Regions from separate parts of the Homo sapiens genome. Here region 1 is linked to region 2. Evidence: fine-mapped expression QTL. A gene starts in region 2. The other region holds a variant in brackets. All regions are shown on one strand. Distances are from middle to middle.

Region 1 (10,989 bases), 48 kb before region 2:
CATTTTACATTCCCACCAGCAGCCCGTGAAAGTTCTAGTTTCTCCACATCCTCGCCAACACTTGTTATTTTCTGAGTTGAGAATAGCCATCCTAATGGGTATGAAGTGGTATGGAAAGTCTTTTCAAGCATAATAGCAAAGAAAGAAATCATAAAGAAAAATGGCCAAATATAGCTACATAGTGTCTGTAAGTAAAAAAAAAAAGTAATCAAACTTAAAAGGCAACGGTAAACTGAGGAAGACATTTGTACTGTGTATGACAAGACGCCTAGCAGGGCATGGTGGGCTTTGGCAGGTCTGGTCTACACCTGCTCTTCTCCACCGGCTGTGTGCTTTGCAATACTCAATTTCTCCCAGCCTCAGTTGCCTTATCTTTAAAATGGGAATAATCATACATTCATTGGTTGTTTGAGGAGTAAGTAAGGTAATGTATGTAAAATATATGTTACATGGTAAGTCCTCCAAGAAGCCTGGCTGGTCTTCATTGTACCATCCCAGTTATCGTCTCTTTCAATTTAATATAAATAAGACAAATATATCAGGAGAAAAGTCTTGAGACGTAAGAAGTAGTTTATATGGCCAAAAAACAAATGGAAAAAAAAGAGATCATCCTCACTAATAGAGAATAATATAAATTGAACTACAGTCTTGTGATGCCTTCTTATAAAACTGTCAAAAGTTGTAAAAAAATGCTCTTTTCCAGTGAGGATAAGTGTGGCCAAATACTCTGCTGAAGAGTAAATGGATACAATTTTCTGTAAGGCATCTGGCAATGTGTAGCAAAAGCTCGTTGACCCAGAAATTTATCCTAAGGAAAAACATCAGAATTGCACACAAAGATTTATAAACAAACCTTATCAAAATGTTTCTTTATAATAGCAGAAAATTGCAATTAACTTGAATTTCTCCAAGCTGGCTAAAGAAATCATGGTGCATCCCTAGAGGGAATACTGCAGCAGCTGTTTCCAATCCTGTTCTCAGATAAGGCTGTGGGAAATTGCTCAATGCATGAAACAGGAAAGAGAAAGAAAATCACATATCAAGGATAATCCCATTTTGCATATCATGAGAAGCATACCAGCTAGGAAAAATAAACTGGAAGGAAATATATTAAAATGTTAATAGCATTTTCCTAGATGTTGAGATAGTGAATGGTTTAGATTTTCCAATTTTTATTTTGCTAGATTTGCCAAATTCTCCACAGTTTAACATGTAACACTTGCCCTTGACTCTGTCTGTGGATGAGTACAGTGATTGGGGGCGGGGGGCGTCCTTTGGACGTGGTCTCCAGGCTGCTCTTGTGGGTCCTGCTTCATCCAGCCCTCTGGCTCTTGTCCCCCACAGTGACCGATTAGCACTGCTCCAGGTCCGGGCTATCCTCCAGCAGCTAGGTCTGAATAGCACCTGCGATGACAGTATCCTCGTCAAGACAGTGTGCGGGGTGGTGTCCAGGAGGGCCGCACAGCTGTGTGGCGCAGGCATGGCTGCGGTTGTGGATAAGATCCGCGAGAACAGAGGACTGGACCGTCTGAATGTGACTGTGGGAGTGGACGGGACACTCTACAAGCTTCATCCACAGTGAGTGGGCCTTCCAGTTGGGATGCGCAGAGCTTGCTGGGATCCCTTTGGGTTAGGGGGTATCAGGGTGTGGTTTACGCTGGGGAAATGCCCTGCGGGAGCCCAGCCAGGCTGAAGGCTGTGCGTTCAGGAGCTGGGGATTGTCTAGGACAAGGTAATGAACAGTTTGTAGGGTTTGACTGGGATCCTTAGGGAGACAGAGAAGTGGCTTCACTTGGCCAGCTCACACCAGTGGCATGATGTGACCCTCACCCCACTCCTCCTGGTCCCCCTTAGGTGGGGGCTAGGCAGTGGGAGAGGAGGTGAGGGTGGGCGTGGGCTCACTCATAAGCCTGGTGAGCTGTAGCCAGGCCAGAGGCTCTGTTGGGTAAGTGGGGAGAGGATATTAAGAAAGGGGAGGAGCTGGGTGCAGTGGTTCACACCTGTAATCCAGCACTTTGGGAGGCCTAGGTGGGAGGACTGCTTCAGTCCAGGAGTTTGAGACCAGCCTAGGCAACATAGTGAGACCTTGTCTGTACAAAAAAATTTTGAAAATTAGCCAGGGATGGTGGTGAATGCCTGTAGTCCCAGCTACTCGGGAGGCTGAGGGAAGAGGATTGCTTGAGCCTGGGAGGTGGAGGTTGCAGTGAGCCCAGATCACGCCACTGTACTCCAGCCTGGGCAACAGAGTGAGACCCTATTTCAAAAAATAAAATAGGAAAGGAGGATAGCCACTCTCTTGTTCATCTGCTGAATCAGTTTGCTAAGACTTGGAAGGGCGGGAGCGGTTTGGGCCCTGGGCTTCATGGCAGGGAGGGGTAGGGAGTGGCCTCCCTCTGGTCAGGCATCTGACCCCCCATGCCAGAGAAGGACATGTGATTGCACTTGCTGTGTGATTGTGATCCACCGCATGTCTCACCTTATGAATAGGGTGACCATATTATTTATTTATTGTCTACACTAGGGTACTCTTGCCAGTCAAGAGTGCTAATAATTATTACTCTGGGACTGTAGGCAAACTAGGACCATCCCAGATAAATGAGGCCATAGTGTCACCCTACTTATAAGCAACCTCACCCGACTCAGTGTAGACATTACCTGCTTACCTCATGGCCGTGGCTTGGGGTGGAACCATCTGTCTTGCTCCATCCTCACCTCTGTCTCTCCCCCTTAATAGCTGTCCTTGCCATCAGCTGAGGCAGCACACAGGAGTGGTTTAGAGCTAGGCTTTGGAGCCACATACTCTTGGATTTAACCCTGGCACCGTCACTTAGAATCTGTGTGCAATTGCTTAATCCCTGCAAAATCTCATCTTCCTCATGAGGTGGCAGCCACTGGCAGGACTAGAAATTAGAGCTGTAAAATATGGGGCACCTAGTAGGTCCTCAAACTCCTTGGCTCAAGTGATCCTCCCACCTTGGCCTCCCAAAGTGCTGGCATGAGCCACCGCACTCCGCCCACCTAATAGGTCCCCAACCAAGGACAGTGACTACTTTTGAGAGCCCCTCACCACAAGCATCTTCAGCCTGGCCCTGCCCTTCATTTTGAGCCCAACTTACAAGCATGTAGATTCAGCCTTTGTTCAGATACTATCTTCACTGGAAGGCATTCCTGTCTTTGGGGGCCAGGCTGTTGATGGTGGGGCGCTGGGGGTCTCAGGGTTGCAGCTGGAGATGGGTGATATTCATTCCTGCATAGCCTCCTGAACCGATCCAGTGCTTGGCTGGCTTGCACCTGCCTTAATGATCCATGTCAGCCCCTAACATCCTCCTTGGTTTTGAGGTCCCCCTGGAGCCTCAAGCTCCGATGTGGGTGTGTGTGTTATTCATGTCCTAGCCTTCATAAGCCATACAGAGCAGTTGTGTTTGGATTCGCAGTTGGGCCTCCCTGCTGAAAACTGTGACAATGGGATTGACCGTGGGCCCACTTTCCTCCCAGCCATTCTCAACTGGCCACAGCTGCTTCTAAGCAGCCTGCCTCCCAACCATGTTCACCCTCCTTGTTGTTGGGTTCAGAGTCTCTTTGACTTCCGATGCTTATGTCCTGATAAACCCATCACAAAGTCGAAGAATCCTAAGTCGAATCATCACCAGTCAGGGGGCTGTCTGTGCTTTGGTGTTTTCGGGTAGGCCCAGCGTCTCTCATCTTCCTCCAACTACCTTCTGTTTTCTCGTCCTTTTTAGCTTCTCCAGAATCATGCACCAGACGGTGAAGGAACTGTCACCAAAATGTAACGTGTCCTTCCTCCTGTCTGAGGATGGCAGCGGCAAGGGGGCCGCCCTCATCACGGCCGTGGGCGTGCGGTTACGCACAGAGGCAAGCAGCTAAGAGTCCGGGATCCCCAGCCTACTGCCTCTCCAGCACTTCTCTCTTCAAGCGGCGACCCCCTACCCTCCCAGCGAGTTGCGCTGGGAGACGCTGGCGCCAGGGCCTGCCGGCGCGGGGAGGAAAGCAAAATCCAACTAATGGTATATATTGTAGGGTACAGAATAGAGCGTGTGCTGTTGATAATATCTCTCACCCGGATCCCTCCTCACTTGCCCTGCCACTTTGCATGGTTTGATTTTGACCTGGTCCCCCACGTGTGAAGTGTAGTGGCATCCATTTCTAATGTATGCATTCATCCAACAGAGTTATTTATTGGCTGGAGATGGAAAATCACACCACCTGACAGGCCTTCTGGGCCTCCAAAGCCCATCCTTGGGGTTCCCCCTCCCTGTGTGAAATGTATTATCACCAGCAGACACTGCCGGGCCTCCCTCCCGGGGGCACTGCCTGAAGGCGAGTGTGGGCATAGCATTAGCTGCTTCCTCCCCTCCTGGCACCCACTGTGGCCTGGCATCGCATCGTGGTGTGTCAATGCCACAAAATCGTGTGTCCGTGGAACCAGTCCTAGCCGCGTGTGACAGTCTTGCATTCTGTTTGTCTCGTGGGGGGAGGTGGACAGTCCTGCGGAAATGTGTCTTGTCTCCATTTGGATAAAAGGAACCAACCAACAAACAATGCCATCACTGGAATTTCCCACCGCTTTGTGAGCCGTGTCGTATGACCTAGTAAACTTTGTACCAATTCAAAGACCCGAGTGATGCTTAATGGCTGGGGACGGGGGGACAGGCAGAGGGGGGTGCAGTTTCTTGGGATGTGGCAAAGACCAAACACTGGGGAGTTTTGTGGCCTTCTGGGCGGAGGAGTTTTTTTTTTTGAGATGGAGTCTTGCCCTGTCACCCAGGCTGGAGTGCAGTGGCACAATCTCAGCTCAGTGCAACCTCTGCCTCCCGAGTTCAAGTGATTCTCCTGCCTCAGCCTCCTGAGTAGTTGAGACTACAGGCGTGCATCCCCACACCCAGCTAATTTTTGTATTTTTAGTAGAGAAGGGGTTTCACCATGTTGGCCAGGCTGGTCTCCAACTCCTGACCTCAAGTGATCTGCCTGCCTTGGCCTCCTAAAGTGCTGGGATTATAGAACAAGGCCACTTGGCTTCCAGGCTGCTTGGGTTCAGTGAGAGGACTGCAACACTGGTCCCCTCTCTGCCATCCCCACCCGGATCCTGCCCTTCATCTTCCTCTCTGCCAACCCCAAGACAAAGGATGAAATGTGCTCTGCCCCACCCCTCCCCTCCCTCTCTACCCAAACACAGATGAAATCTTGAAGCAGCCCAGGCTGGCTGCACGCTCCCGCTCCCGGATCTTTTTTCTTTATTTTTTATTTTTATTTTCTGTAGACAGGGTCTCACTGTGTTGCCAGGGCTGGTCTCCAACTCCTGAGCTCAAGCAATCTGCCCCCCTCAGCCTCCCATAGTGCTGGGATTATAGGCGTGAGCCATCGCTCCCGGCCCACCCCTTCTGGATCTTAGATTGACCTCATCCCTAGGAAATTAACCCTTGTCTGACCTTTTACTCTCCCTTCCCACCCCCACCTCAAGAGATTCCTGGTCTATCCCCAGGCTACCATTTTGGATTCTCCCCCAGCCTTGGTGGGTTCCATGTCACTCTGCACCCAAGCACCTTGTGATGTCCCAAGCCACAGCTGCGGCTCTAAGTGGCTTCCTGCGAGACCGATTGCCAGACCACCTGGTTTGGTGAGATCAGAGTCCCTTTATTAGGGGCATGGTGCTGGTGTCTACGGAGCAGTGATTTTTTGGAGAACACAGATAACATTACACCTTCCAGTGTGCATTGACAATGTTACATGGCTCTTCTGCAGGGGAACCAGGGCGTGGAGGCTGAGTTGGCAAGCAGGAGGTGTGCCCCTGGGATGGGCTGGGCCAGACCGGGAGCTTTCTGGGAGTTGGGACAGTTGCTGCTTTCTGCCCTCTAGCTTCTTGCTGCAGAAGTGGGAGTGGGAGCTGTGCTGCTGCTTTGTAGGTGGCTTTTGTGTGAAATAGTTAAAAGTCATGGCTAACAGCCAGGTGTGGTGGCTCACATCTGTAATCCCACCACTTCAGGAGACAGGCAGGAGGAATGGTTGAGCCCAGGAGTTCAAGACCAGCCTGGGCAACATAGCAAGACCCCATATCTACAAAAAACTTAAAAACTAGCTGGGTGTGGTGGTATGTATCTGTGGTCCCAGCTACAGGGGAGACTGAGGCAGGAGGATCCCCTGAGCCCAGGAGGTTGAGGCTGCACTGAATCATGATGGTGCCACTGCACTCCTGCCTGGGTCTCAGAGTGAGGTGAGACCCTGTCTCATAAAAAAAAAAAAAAAAAAAAAGAAAGTCCTGGCTACCATGTATTGGGCACTTAATCTGGTCTGGCCTGCTAGTTTATAGGCATTACTCCCATTGTTCCTCACAGCATCCCTGTGAAGTAGTTTTGATACTGGGCAGAGGTCAAAGTGACTTGCCTGAGGAAACACAGCTGATTTTTTTGGCTCTTAATCACCATCTACGTGGGCTGTATCTGACTTCTTAAATACTGAGACAGAGAAGCCCTCAGCTGACTCAGTCACTGGGCTTTGTGAAATAAGAAGTTTCCTCCTTTGTATCCACAGCCTGATGGCGAATCAGGGTCATGGTTGCATTGCCCACAGATACGTTTTGTTTAACTTATGCAAAGTTTATGAAAATTTGGGTCAAATTCAACAAATCTGGAAGACTCACATACAAATGTGGATTTATAGCTTCTCTTGAAAGATTTAGAAGATCTAGCAACAGTGGGCTCCCATTATCATGTGGCAACGTTTGTCCAGAGCTGAGTAGTTCTTGTC[C/G]CCTTTGAATGCCTGTCCTCTCCAGGTTGCCATGGCCCCCACCATTCCCTATTAGCTCAAACTGAGGGTGGAAGTCAGTTGCCTTTTATCATCACATTTGCAGTTTTTCTTTTATACATATTCTTGTATGCCCCAGGAAGGCATTTGAGCTTGCATCTCTTAAATTAGATAAATATCAGCTTACACTGTCTTTTCTGACCCTTACTGGATCCTCTGAAGTGCTCTCTGAGATGGGTGGCTGAGTCCTCTTAAAGTCAGCATCCTTTCTGGAGTTCTGGCCCCATGTTGTCTTTGTATTGGTATACTGAAGGATGGGGCATGAGCTGAACTTTCAGATGTGGTCTTCTCGATTGGCTACTTCTCAAAGGGTGCTACACCTCATTCTGCAGCCAGGCACAAGGCTTCAGGGTTCAATAGGCACCTATCTCAGTCCATTTGTGTTGCTTTCATGGAATACCTGAGACTAGGTAATTTATAAAGAAAAGAGGTTTATTTGGCTCATGATTCTGGTGGCTGGAATATCCAAGATTGGGCAGCTGCATCTGGTGAAGGCCTCAGGCTGCTTCTTGTCATGGTGGAAAGTGGAAGGGAAGTGTTGTGTGCAAAGAGATCACATGGTGAGAGAGGAAGCAAGACAGGGAAACTGAGGACACCACACTCTTTCTAACAACTTGTTATTTTGGGAACTAGTCCATTCCCACAAGAGTGATGATTCACTTCAACTGGAAGGCATTAATCTATTCATAAGGGATCCATCCCCAATACCCAAACACCTCCCACTAACCCCTACCTCCCAACACTGCCACATTGGGATCAAATTTCAACATGAGTTTTGGTGGGGGCAAGCAAACCATACCCAAACCATAGCCCTGATCCATCCTGGGGACGCCCCGCCTCCCCACTGGTAGCCTCGGAGGGGGCTGTGTCCCCAGCCATGAACAAAGTCTCCTTAGTGTGACACCTGTTGACTCTCGTGGAGAGGGAGGTCGTGGGAGTCAGCTCGAGCTTATCTTCCTTGGTGGGTGTGACCCATGGGCAGCAGCGGAAGGCAAGCCGGAATCCAGAGCGAAACCTGGGGGAGCGAGGGGCACCTTGAGCCAGGGAGTTAGGGGCTCAGGAGCTGTGATGTGACTGCCCCCACCCCCAGGAAACTGACTCCCTTCCAGAGGAAAGTCACTGTCTCTCTCCAAGAGCCTCCCATGGCTCAGGGGCTCTTGAGAGATGCCTTCGTGGGTGAGTTTGATTTTTGGAAACTGCCAGAGTGTTCTGGAGCTGGGTCTAGTGAATGAAGTGGGTGACTAAGCTGATTTAGGTCATCTGTTATTACGAACAAAAAATGACCCCAGCATAATTACTAAAAAAACCAACCAACCAACAAACAAACAAAAAAACCAGCAGATGTTCTTGTCTGACTTGTTAACTGGCTTCTAAGGGATGAGTCAAAGAAGAACCTGCTAAAACACAATGGAGGCTTTGGCAACTTGGGAGAACAAGGATGCTTTTCCCAAGGGGACTACATTGAAAAACCCACACTCGGAGCCACCAAGTTCTGATGCATTTGCTTGAAAACAAACAGCTCTCCCCATGGCAGCACTGAACGGGAGTTCAGAGGAAGCACACACGGTGAGTGGAAGAAATCAGACGGCAGAAAGGGAACGCTGGCTGCTCAGAGAAGGGAATGATCCAGAAGTGATGTCAGGATCTTGTAGAGCCTGGGGTGTTGTTTAGACTCCCAGGGACTGTATCTCCCTTGGGTAGCAGGAGAGTGATCAACCCACAGACACAGTGGGCTGGTGGCCCCTCCCAGATGTCAGAGTCCCTGTCTCCAGGTTTTCAATCCCACAAGTCTTTAAAAGAGAAATGCGTGGTGTGGGGATAAGATGACAGGCCTTGGAGACCCATGGAGTCCTGGCTTTACTGTTTGTTGTATGAATTTGGGAGCATCTTACTTTCTGAAGCTCAGTTTCCCCATCTGTAGAGTGGGGGTGACACCTGCTTCTCTCCTATTATCTACTTCCCTCTCAGGAGATAGAGAGTTCTGGCCTCCTGCAAAAAATCATAGCTCCTTATTTCCTTTTGGCCTGCCCCAGGCGGGTGAAATGTCTGAGCCACAAAGATCCCAATGGCATTATGAGTAGCCTGGCTACCTGGCCAGGGAGGTGACAAAAAACATGAACAAAGAGGTCCAAGGCCAACTTCGCCCACATCATTGTCTCACTGAGGTGAGACTGTGTCCACCTCTTGCCGCCCCTTATTTGCCCCACCTTCAGGGTTTCCTGCCACTGAAAGGCCTGCTCTGCAGAACTCCTGGGGCTGGGTTCCTCCCTGACTCACCACCCCCCACCTCTCCAGGTGCCCCAGAGCAAGTGCAGGCCCCTCTCTGGGACTCATTTCCTCAGAATCACGAGGCGTAGGGAAACTGGATGATGCCAGGAGAGTGAGATTCTGGCCCCCTCCTTCCTGGCTGTCTCTGACAGGGTCACTTCCCAGCTGCCCTGAAAGTCCCTGGAGGACAGGGCATGCACTGTGAGCTTTCCAGGGAGCAGCCTGCCCCACCCCTGTGCTGGCCCCAGCCCCCATCCACTGCTTCCACTGCCGGATGGGTGCCATTCACTTGGCTCCAGGAAAGCCCTCAGTAGGAAGCTTGTGAAAATACTAGAACAGAAGTCAGTCCCTCCCTCCCGCTACTTAGCTTTTCTTTCCTTCGTCTGTCTGTCCCACCCCCTCTCTGTGACTCTCCCCTCCCCTTCATCTCTCTGGCCCTCCCTTCTCTCTTCTCTTGCCCCAGACACAGAACCCAGAAGAGCCAGCAGGAACAGACAGACAGTGAGAGCTACAGCCTGGGAGACGGTGAGGATTTGGGGAGGAAGGGGGCTCAAGCTAGGCCCAGGCCAGAGGGATTATTGTGCTGGGGGCTGAGTGTGAGGACGGCTTTCTCATGTAGGCTGGGGGCACAGGGCCACAGGTTCCGGCAGGAATGAGGATGGATGCTTGAGCTGTGCAGGGGAGCCCACCTGGGGCTGGGCAGTGGGGCCCTGAGGGCAGAGGGTGGGGCTGGAGTGGGGGCTCACCTGTGGTTGAGACAGCAGTAGATGATGGGATTGTACATGGTAGAGCTCATGGCCAACCAGAAGAGTGCCAGGTAGACTTGCTGGATGAACTTGTGGCAGTAGATGTCCTCCTGGAAGCTGCCCAGGATGAAGTAGAGGTGGTAGGGCAGCCAGCAGATGGCAAACGTCAGCACCACCAGCACCATGGTCTTCACAAACTGGTCCAGGAGAGGCTCAAGTTACTTCTTAGTGCCCAAGCCCCAGCCCCAGCCCTCCGAGGGCAGACACAGAGGACCCCTTGCACCCACCTGGGAACTGCTCCACACACAGACCCCGTTAGCTCTATTACTCAGGCCTCTGAGCATGTTTTGCCCAGACCTTCCTGAGCCCCCAACCTCAGAGGCCTGTGCTCAGGCAGGTCCCTCTGCCCATACTGCCATCCTTCCTTTGAAGTCCTCACTCCTTGAAGCCCAGCTCAATGGCCACTTCCTACAAAAGGTGTCTGGGACCCCTTCATTCACTGCAGCTCCCCCTCCCTGGAGAGTGGCTGAGCTCTCTCTCCTAACCCCATCCCTGGGGGAGCCCCTGTGTCAGCTATGCGTTCCCAGGACGCCCCCTCTCTGGGATCCGTATCGGCACAGCCCTTCTCTCTGTGGGCTGTAAGGTTCCAACCAGGGACCCCTGCCTCTGCCCACGGGTCAGCTCCTGGACCTCCCCCTCCTCAGAGCCTGGCCCCTGCAGGCACACTCCTGCTCCGTTTGGCAGCCCAGCATGCCAATTACAAAAGGTCTGGGGGCTCCTGGGCACCCTGATCCTCACGTAGGATCTGGGTTGAGACCCCTAGTGTGGAGCAGATGGAGGCCAGTGCTCCATGAGGGGCACCAGATGGCGCCCATGTGCAGCTATCTCCCCGAACCACCCTGTGAAAGATGCCTACTTTTGGGTGAGAAGCATGGCTTTGACCTGGCTACATGATGTGGTTAACCCATTACCTCCCCTGTTGCCTGGTAGGAAGGGGGCAAGGACAAGCTTGGACTGAAGGAGGGTGAAGGGGGTCTTGGGCACAGAGGGCTACATCAGGACCTTCGGGGGACCCTGGATGGCAGGGAGTAGGGGGACACTGCCACTTCCGGAAGAAACTGGAGACAGATTTGATGAAGCTGGACAACTATCTGGT
Region 2 (8,000 bases):
CACAGGAGAAGCTCGTTGTGCATTTGCTGACTCATCTATTGACTGTGAGAATTATAGCTAAGATTGTTAGAGCTGGAAGAGAAACAGGCCAACCTCATTGTTTCACAGGTGGGGAAACAGAGGCACAGACAGAGACCTTTGCCCAGTGGCATGAATACAGACATACCCAAGTCAAATTGGTCATGCATAATTGTTAGCTTCTTTTTCACAAACTGTAATAGCCATTAAAGGCAAGGGTTAGTCATTTCCCCCTAAATCTCACTGTCAAGTTATCAAGAAAACAGATCTCAGGACGGATTCTGCTGCCCATACGAATGTCTATAAAACAAACATTTATTAGCTAGTAGCCACAAAATTGGTTCATACAACCTTTCTGTGAAACTCAAAAAGGCCCAGCTTTCTGTCCTTTTAGGAGCTCTTCCACCTTGCAAGAAGGGTCTGCTGGAGGAAAATACAATATTCTAAAGGCAGGACTCAGTTTGACTGATGGCTGCATTGGAATACTTTGAGACAGAAGCACTCTCAAGCCTTTAGCTCAGTGTATTATCCATAAGTGAGAATTAGCAGCTTCCCAAGATTCTTTGACACTGTTTGAACAAGGAATGGGTGGTGCCAAAACTATTTTAGCCAATCTAAATATCTTTAATACTGTTAATTTCTCCAAAGGAGACTCATTTCTAATACCTGTTATGCTAATTAATAAGCCCAGAATTTTACCAATCCATTCATTATGCTAATTAGAAAAGCCTTGGGGGTGGATTGAGATATGGATATTTGCATGGGATACTGAGTGATTGTTCCAGACTCTGCATGCCTCTGAACTCCCAAGTTCATTGAAGTGAAGTTGGTAACTTAAAATCAGACATGGTGGAAGTATTTACTTTATGGAAATTGGAATCCCCCACACCAGCTAGTTTTTAAATATTTACCAGTATATCAGTGGATAGCTGAGTAAGTGACTTCTGGAATGTGGCTTTCTGGTAAGATGTTGGCTGACAACCTTACCCTCATGACTACCTCTGTACCAGTGATGCTTAATTCTGGTTGCACTTTAGAAATTACCTGGGGGAGTCCAGACACAATGGCTCATGTCTGTAATCCTAGCACTTAGGGAGGCGGAGGTGGGCTGATGATTTGAGGTCAGGAGTTCAAGACCAGCCTGACCAACATGGTGAAACTTGTCTCTACTAAAATACAAAAATTAGCTGGGTGTGGTGGCGGGGGCCTGTAATGTCAGCTACTTGGTAGGCTGAGGCAGGAGAATCACTTGAACCTGTATAGCGGAGGTTGCAGTGAGTCAAGATCACGCCACTGCACTCCAGCCTGGGTGACAGAGCAAGACTGCCTCTCAAAAAAATAAAAATAAACATAAAAATGAGAAATTACCTGGGGAGTTTAAAAATAATACTGATTACCACGTTCCTGTTGGTGGGGATTTTGACTTGACTGCAGTGGGGCTTGAATATCAGGATACATTTAAAGCTTACCAGGTGCTTTTAGTCTGCAGCTAGGGTTGCATTCACACCTGTGTGTCACACTATGCCACACATTCTAACAGTCCTACAAAAAAGTAATGGCAAAACCAGGATTTGCACCAGGCCTGCTGGCCCCTAGGCCAGAGTTCCTGGCTAAAGGAGGAAAAGTGGGAAACAGATGGCCATTTCTTCTGAGGTCTCAGTGTTTGCAAATGTGGTTCAGGAGGAGCCCTAGTGCTTGGGGTCAGGGTCAGGATTGCAGGTGGGGAGGCACAGTGAAGAAGCCCAGCAGCCAGGGAAAGGCTGTGCCAGCCCCAAAGAGCTCCAAGGCTCTTTGTAGGGATGGCTCACCTCGAGGGCTTAGGGAGAGCTGAGAGGGCTTGCTAAGAAGCTTGTGTGTCACCAGGGAATATTTGAAAGATGAGAGAAAATGCAGCTGGCTGGAGAGGCCAGAAGGGAAGAATAGAAGTCCAGGGGCAACTGGGAAGGAAACCTGATGGAGGTGTGTGGCAGTTTCGACTGTAGTTTAAATATGGAGAATGAAAGGGAACTAGGAGGCTAAACTAGCCTTCCAGGGTATGAAGAGGGTTCCAAGCTTCTATGGGTGGGGAAGAGACTAGCACCTCAAATAATGGGTGTGGACTTAGCTCTGCAGGGCTGGGTGGAGGCTCTAGCCCTCAAAGAGGAATAAAAAGTTAGTCTTCCTCCTCAAAGGACAGAAAGGACAACTTTTTTTTTTTTTGGGGACCGAGTCTCGCTCTGTCATCCAGGCTGGAGTGCAGTGGCACGATCTTGACTCATTGCAACCTCTGCTATCCAGGTTCAAGTGATTCTCCTGCCTCAGCCTCCCGAGTAGCTGGGATTACAGGCACCCATCACCATGCCCGGCTAATTTTTGTATTTTTAGTAGAGCCAGGGTTTCACCATGTTGGCCAGGCTGATCTTGAGCTCCTGACCTCGAGTGATCCCCCTGCCTTGGCCTCCCAAAGTGTTGGGATTACAGGTGTGAGCCACCGCGCCCGGCCAGAATGGACAACTTTTAACACTATGGTAAGATGCCTTCTTGGCCCTCAGATAATCATTTGAGGGCAGCTTGCATTACTCTCTGGTTCTCTTTCCACCTTTTCTTTTCCCTGTTGTTTTTTTTTTGAGACAGGGTCTTGCTTTGTTGTCCAGGCTGGAGTGCCGTAGCACAATCATAGCTCACTGCAGCCTTGATCTTTTGGGCTCGAGAAGTGATACCCCCACCTCACCCTCCCAAGTAGCTGGGACTACAGGCACGAGACACCATGCTTGGCTAATTTTTTTGATTTTCAGTGGAGATGAGGTCTTGCTACGTTGCCCAGACTGGTCTGAAACTCCTGGACTCAAGCAAACCTCTCACCTTGGCCTCCCAAAGTGCAGGGATTACAGGCATGAGCCACTGTGCCTGGCTCTGGTTCTATTTCTCTACCCCACACAAACATCCTCCCAAGGTTTGTTTGTTTTGTACCAGGAAATTGGTTTCCTTTTACCCTTCCAGGCATGGCACTGCCTCCCTCCCCACCCCCCAATCTTGCTTTCTTCCTCCTAGGGCAGAGCTCTGGGGGCTAAAGCCAGCCTGGACTAAGTCTCTGAGTCTGTCCTTCTCTGTTGAGTTTGTGTATGCAGGAGCCCTGGGAACCCAGGACTGGGGACTTGTATAAGAGTGTCGTTCCTGAAATCACCACCAGGGACCCCACCCAGCACTGCTAGAGCTTATGACCTCTGCCATGGATTTAATTACTGAAGGCCACAGCAGGGATTGTCTGGCTCCCAAGTCCCAGGCTGAGCTAGGCTTGGGAGACAGGAAACAACAGTGAGTAAAGCTGGGACCATCTAGCATGAGAGACAGGCTCACAGCCACCTCTGGTCCCAGGCTGAGAAAAGGCCAGGTGGGAGGAGGCTGGGTTAGTGGCTGGCTATGTGCAAGAGAGGGAGCTGCCTCCCTCACCTATAGTTTCTGTTTGTTTGTTTTTTGTTTTTTTGAGATGGAGTCTCCCTTTGTCACCCAGGCTGGAGTGCAGTGGCGGGATCTCGGTTCACTGTAACTTCCGCCTCCCGGGTTCAAGCGATTCTCCTGCTTCAGCCTCCCCAGTAGCTGGGACTACAGGCATGCACCACCCTGCCCGGCTAATTTTTTTTGTATTTCTTAGTAGAGACAGGGTTTCACCACGTTGTCCAGGCTAGTCTCGAACTCCTGACCTCAAGTGATCCGCACGCCTTGGCCTCCCAAAGTGTTGGTATTACAGGCGTGAGCCACCGTGCCCGGCCTTGTTTTTGTTTTTGTTTTGGAGAGAGGGTCTCACTCTGTCTCCCAGGCTGGAGTGCACTGGCACAATCACGGCTCACTGCAGCCTTGACTTCCCTGACTCAAGCGATTCTCCCGCCTGTCTCCCAAGTAGCTGGGACAACAGGCGCGCCACCGTGCCTGGCTTTTTATTTTTTTTAATTATAGAGTCGGCGTTTTGCCATGTTGCCCAGGCTGGTCTTGAACTCCTGGGGCTCAAGCCATTCGCCCTCCTCAGCCTCCCAAAGTGCTGGGATTACAGGCGTGAGTCACCGCGCCAGGCCTTCAACCTAGTTTGAAGATGGGGTTTCCCGGGAGGAACCCTTCCCAAGGCTGGGTTATCACCTGGCAAAAGAAGGGGACTTCCGAGGTCGTTTGGTGAAGGCCTTCAGCAGATCTGTTTCACGAGCAAACTTCAGACTCCAGCTCCATGGGGGCCTATTAGCCCCACCCTGGTCTGCCTCCCTGAGCCTTCCTGAGCCGAGCAACTCCACTTCCTTATTCCATTCACGTTTAGCACACTCATTTGCACTTTCAACACCTGGGCGATTAATTCTTGCCCTTTTCCCAAAGTTTTCCCTCTTGACAAGAGGAAAGCTTGCATTTCTATGTACCCCGATTAGGCACGCTCGCTCTCTCCTTAGAGCACCTCTGGTTCACCTCTCCCACGCCCCCTGCATTAGCACAGGCGTTTCCAGAGTTGCACGCGAGCTCATTTGCAAGACCGTCTCCCCCTCCCATCCCTTCTTGGTCCCCTCTAGGGCCCAGGGCAGCAGCCCCGCCCCTGGCCCGCCCCCTCCCAGACGCTAGGCAGCCGCGGCCTCCCATTGGCCGCCAGGGCTGGCAGGCTTCCCGGCTGGGGCTGTGATTGCCGCGCTCCAGTGTCAGTCCCGGAGAGAACGCCGGTGGCGGGGCTGGTAGCCCGGCAGCCGCAGGTGGGGCCACGAGCGCTGGCTGAGGGACCGAGCCGGAGAGCCCCGGAGCCCCCGTAACCCGCGCGGGGAGCGCCCAGGATGCCGCGCGGGGACTCGGAGCAGGTGCGCTACTGCGCGCGCTTCTCCTACCTCTGGCTCAAGTTTTCACTTATCATCTATTCCACCGTGTTCTGGGTGAGTGACCCCAGTAGGGCCCGGGGATGGGGGTGGGGACCCACAATCCGGCCGCCCCCTCACTGGCCCGGGGTTGGGTCCACACTTAGCCGCTCCAGGGAGTGCGCGGGTGAGCGCGCGCGGACTCCTTGTCTTTCTACCTCACATTCGGGCGGCCAGAGCTCAGCCTGAATTTTCAGCCGCCCTTTCGGGAGTGTGAGAGCCGGTTGTCGACCGACCGAGTGCCACCTGGCTCACCTGTGTGCACCGGCTGGGCGGTTTGCCCGCTGTGCGTCCGCTGGCCGGCTGGCTAGGCTGAGGTGAACGCGCTGGCCGCGCCCACCACGCCTACCCGGTAGGACTGACTGCCTCTGCATCGGCCTGTGGAGCTTAAGTAGTTAGGATTTGCAGTCGGGGTTGGGAGACCTGGATTCCGGGTCTGGTCCCTGCTAGTTACTTGCTGATGCCCCTGAGCGAGACGCTTCCCCGCTCCGTCTTGGTTTCCTCTTTGGTGGATGCACGTGCCTCCTGCGTGGCGAGGAGAAGTCCACCAGACGACGTCTCCTGCACACCTAGGTGCTCAGTTTCCGCTGTCGCTGGGCTTTACCTCCTCCTCTGCCTTGTTAGGGGGCAGGATGGTAGTGTTTAGACATGAACCAAGCTTTGAATTCCGTCGCTCCGAGTGGTCTTTTATTTTATATTTTATTTTTTATTTAAAACATTGCTAATCTCTGTATCGTTCCAATTTCAGTTTGTGCGTTTCTGAAATGAGCACTTGCTGAGTGATCTTGGGGAAGTTACTTCATTCCTCTCGGCCATGGTTTCCTCATCTGTAAATGGACACAGTAATTATATTCAACTTGTAGGATGCTCGCGGAGATTACGTGAAATAGGCCGGGTATGGTGCCTAGTGAAGAGCTCAAGAAGTGTGAGACATTATTACTATCGTGGGCAGGGAATTTGGACACCTGTGGTGTAAGCTGCCCCAAGAGATTGGGTTTCTGTAAGGGCGTTTCATATTAGGCTGGGCCCTATTCTAGAGATGAGGATATCTTCCTATAGGCCAGCTCCGCCCCTGTCACTCCAGAATCGCTCTCTGCCTGCAGTATGCCACAAGAGCAGACTTGCCCAGGGACCCAGGGTGGTCACTGACACCCCATTCCCACCAAATACACACACTCTCCCCTGGTGTCCTCCTTAGCCCCTTGCTGGGTCTCTTCTGCTAGCAGGAGCTGCTGGATTTGCCATCAGGACTGGCTTTCCCTGTGACCCCTTTGTGGGTGGGGCCTTGCCTGGTAATCGGAGATCCAGATTCAGCTCTGTTACTGACTTATGGATATCTTAGGCAAGTCACTTTCCTGTTTTGGGCCTCAGAACTGTTCATTGACTTTTCCATCTAGAAGACTAGTCTGAGGCCAGTTTCCAATCCAATTCTCTGACTCTAGGTAATGTGGAGGAGAGATGAACAGTATGTTTGGGGGGCGGAGGATGGAGCAAGGACCTGTTGGTGGAAGCTCTAGGGAGACAGAAGGTCATATGTGGGATGGGAGTGGGGGTGATTTGAGCTATAAATCAGCGGTTGCATCAGATTCTTGTGCCCTGGCATAGGTATTTATTTAAATTTACATAAGCTTAATTGTAGTAAATTACTTACTAGAATTAAGGTAATTCTAGTGTGCAGTCAGTATTGAAAACTGCTGCCCTAGATGGTCTCATAGGTCCCCTAAGTCCCCAGGATTTCTGTGCCTGCCCCTTGTGTGTTCTGTGAGCCCTTCTCTCTGTAAATCAGAGTTGAAAGAGCCTAAGGTTGATGGGTGGGGAGGTAGGAAGATGGAGTTGTATTTTGGGCTTCACCCCTTCCCCAGATATATAATCACAAACCAGTCTCTCTACCTCCTCACGTTTCCATTTTCTCATCTATAAAATGAATAAGTGAATCTCTGCCCTGTACCTCACTGAATTGTTTTAGGATTAGTGATATGGGGAAAGAGTGACATATGAGCAAAATCAGTGCAGTACAAACATACCTCATGCAGTTAAATAAAACTGAACTCTAATTTTTAAGGCTTTGTTCTGTCACTGTCCTTTGCAGCCCCCAGAGAAGCCCACCCAATGGCCCTTGCCTTGCTTCTCTTGGGCAGGGTGGTTCTCAGAACTTGGAATCCCTCCTCTGCCAACTGAGGTTGCCTTACCAAATCCTTAACTCCCATCCCTGGAAGTATTTCTGTTTAAAAGTCTCTACACCCATGCCAAGAACTCAGCCACCTGCCAACTCTGCCAGAGCAGCTCCAGGTGCCAGAGTTTGACTGCAGGGCAGGGCCCAGTGTGAGTAAGTAATCTGTCCTGGACCAGGTTTACTGTTATTTGGAAACCATTTACAGGAAAGCCTATTATCTCTGGTGCCATCTCTGGTGCCATCTCTGGGGTTGAGGGAAGGGTTACTTGCTTTGTAAGTCCAAACTGCTAGCAATTTGCATCTCAGTTTTTAGGTCTGGAGGGCCATAAGTTTTATGACAGCCTTGTACCTTCTGTAAGACTTTTTGCTTACTTTAAAAATTACTACTGGGGCCGGGCCCGGTGGCTCATGCTTGTAATCCCAGCATTTTGGGAGACTGAGGCGGGAGGATCACCCGAGGTCTGGAGTTTGAGACCAGCCTGGCTAACATGGTGAAACCTCATCTCTACTAAAAATACAAAAATTAGCCAGGCGTGGTGGTGTGTGCCTGTAATCCCAGCTACTCGGGAGGCTGAAGCATGAGAATTGTTTGAACCCAGGAGGTGGAGGTTGCAGTGAGCTGACATCGTGCCACGGCACTGTAGTTGGGTGACAGTGTAAGACTCGGTTTAAAAAAAAAAATTACTATTGACCAGGCATTGTGGCTCATGCCTGTAATCCTAGCACTTTGGAAGGCCAAGATGGGCAGATTGCTTGAACCTGGGAGTTCGAGACCAGCCTGGGCAACATGATGAAACTCTGTCTCTACTAAAAATACAAAAATTAGCTGGGCGTGGTGGCATGCACCTGTAGTCACAGCTACTTGGGAGGCTGAGGTAGGAGGATCACCTGAGCTCAGGAGACGGAGGTTGAAGTGAGTTGAGATTGTGCCACTGCACTCCAGCCTGCATGAG

The links. PIP is the estimated chance that this variant, and not a neighbour inherited with it, causes the effect.
Region 1: its variant is the best candidate, but not a certain one, in a credible set for the expression of TSPAN15 in whole blood (TOPMed, PIP 0.52).

Annotation. Positions count from the first base shown.
Region 1 is chr10:69,397,251-69,408,239 of GRCh38, forward strand. HK1 (hexokinase 1) reads left to right here. Exons shown (of 18, transcript NM_000188.3): 17 at 1,345-1,578; 18 at 3,741-4,632. The coding sequence ends at 3,885. TACR2 (tachykinin receptor 2) reads right to left here. Exons shown (of 5, transcript NM_001057.3): 4 at 9,834-10,030; 5 at 6,653-7,834. The coding sequence ends at 7,576. Among named protein-coding and RNA genes, the nearest start is that of TACR2, 14 kb to the right of the region's middle. The variant C/G (reference allele first, on the strand shown) is at 6,763.
Region 2 is chr10:69,446,799-69,454,798 of GRCh38, forward strand. TSPAN15 (tetraspanin 15) reads left to right here and starts at 4,667. Exons shown (of 8, transcript NM_012339.5): 1 at 4,667-4,892. The coding sequence starts at 4,797. RefSeq lists enhancers at 1,251-1,752, 3,070-3,688, 3,689-4,306, 4,256-4,395, 5,187-5,687 and a silencer at 4,516-4,825.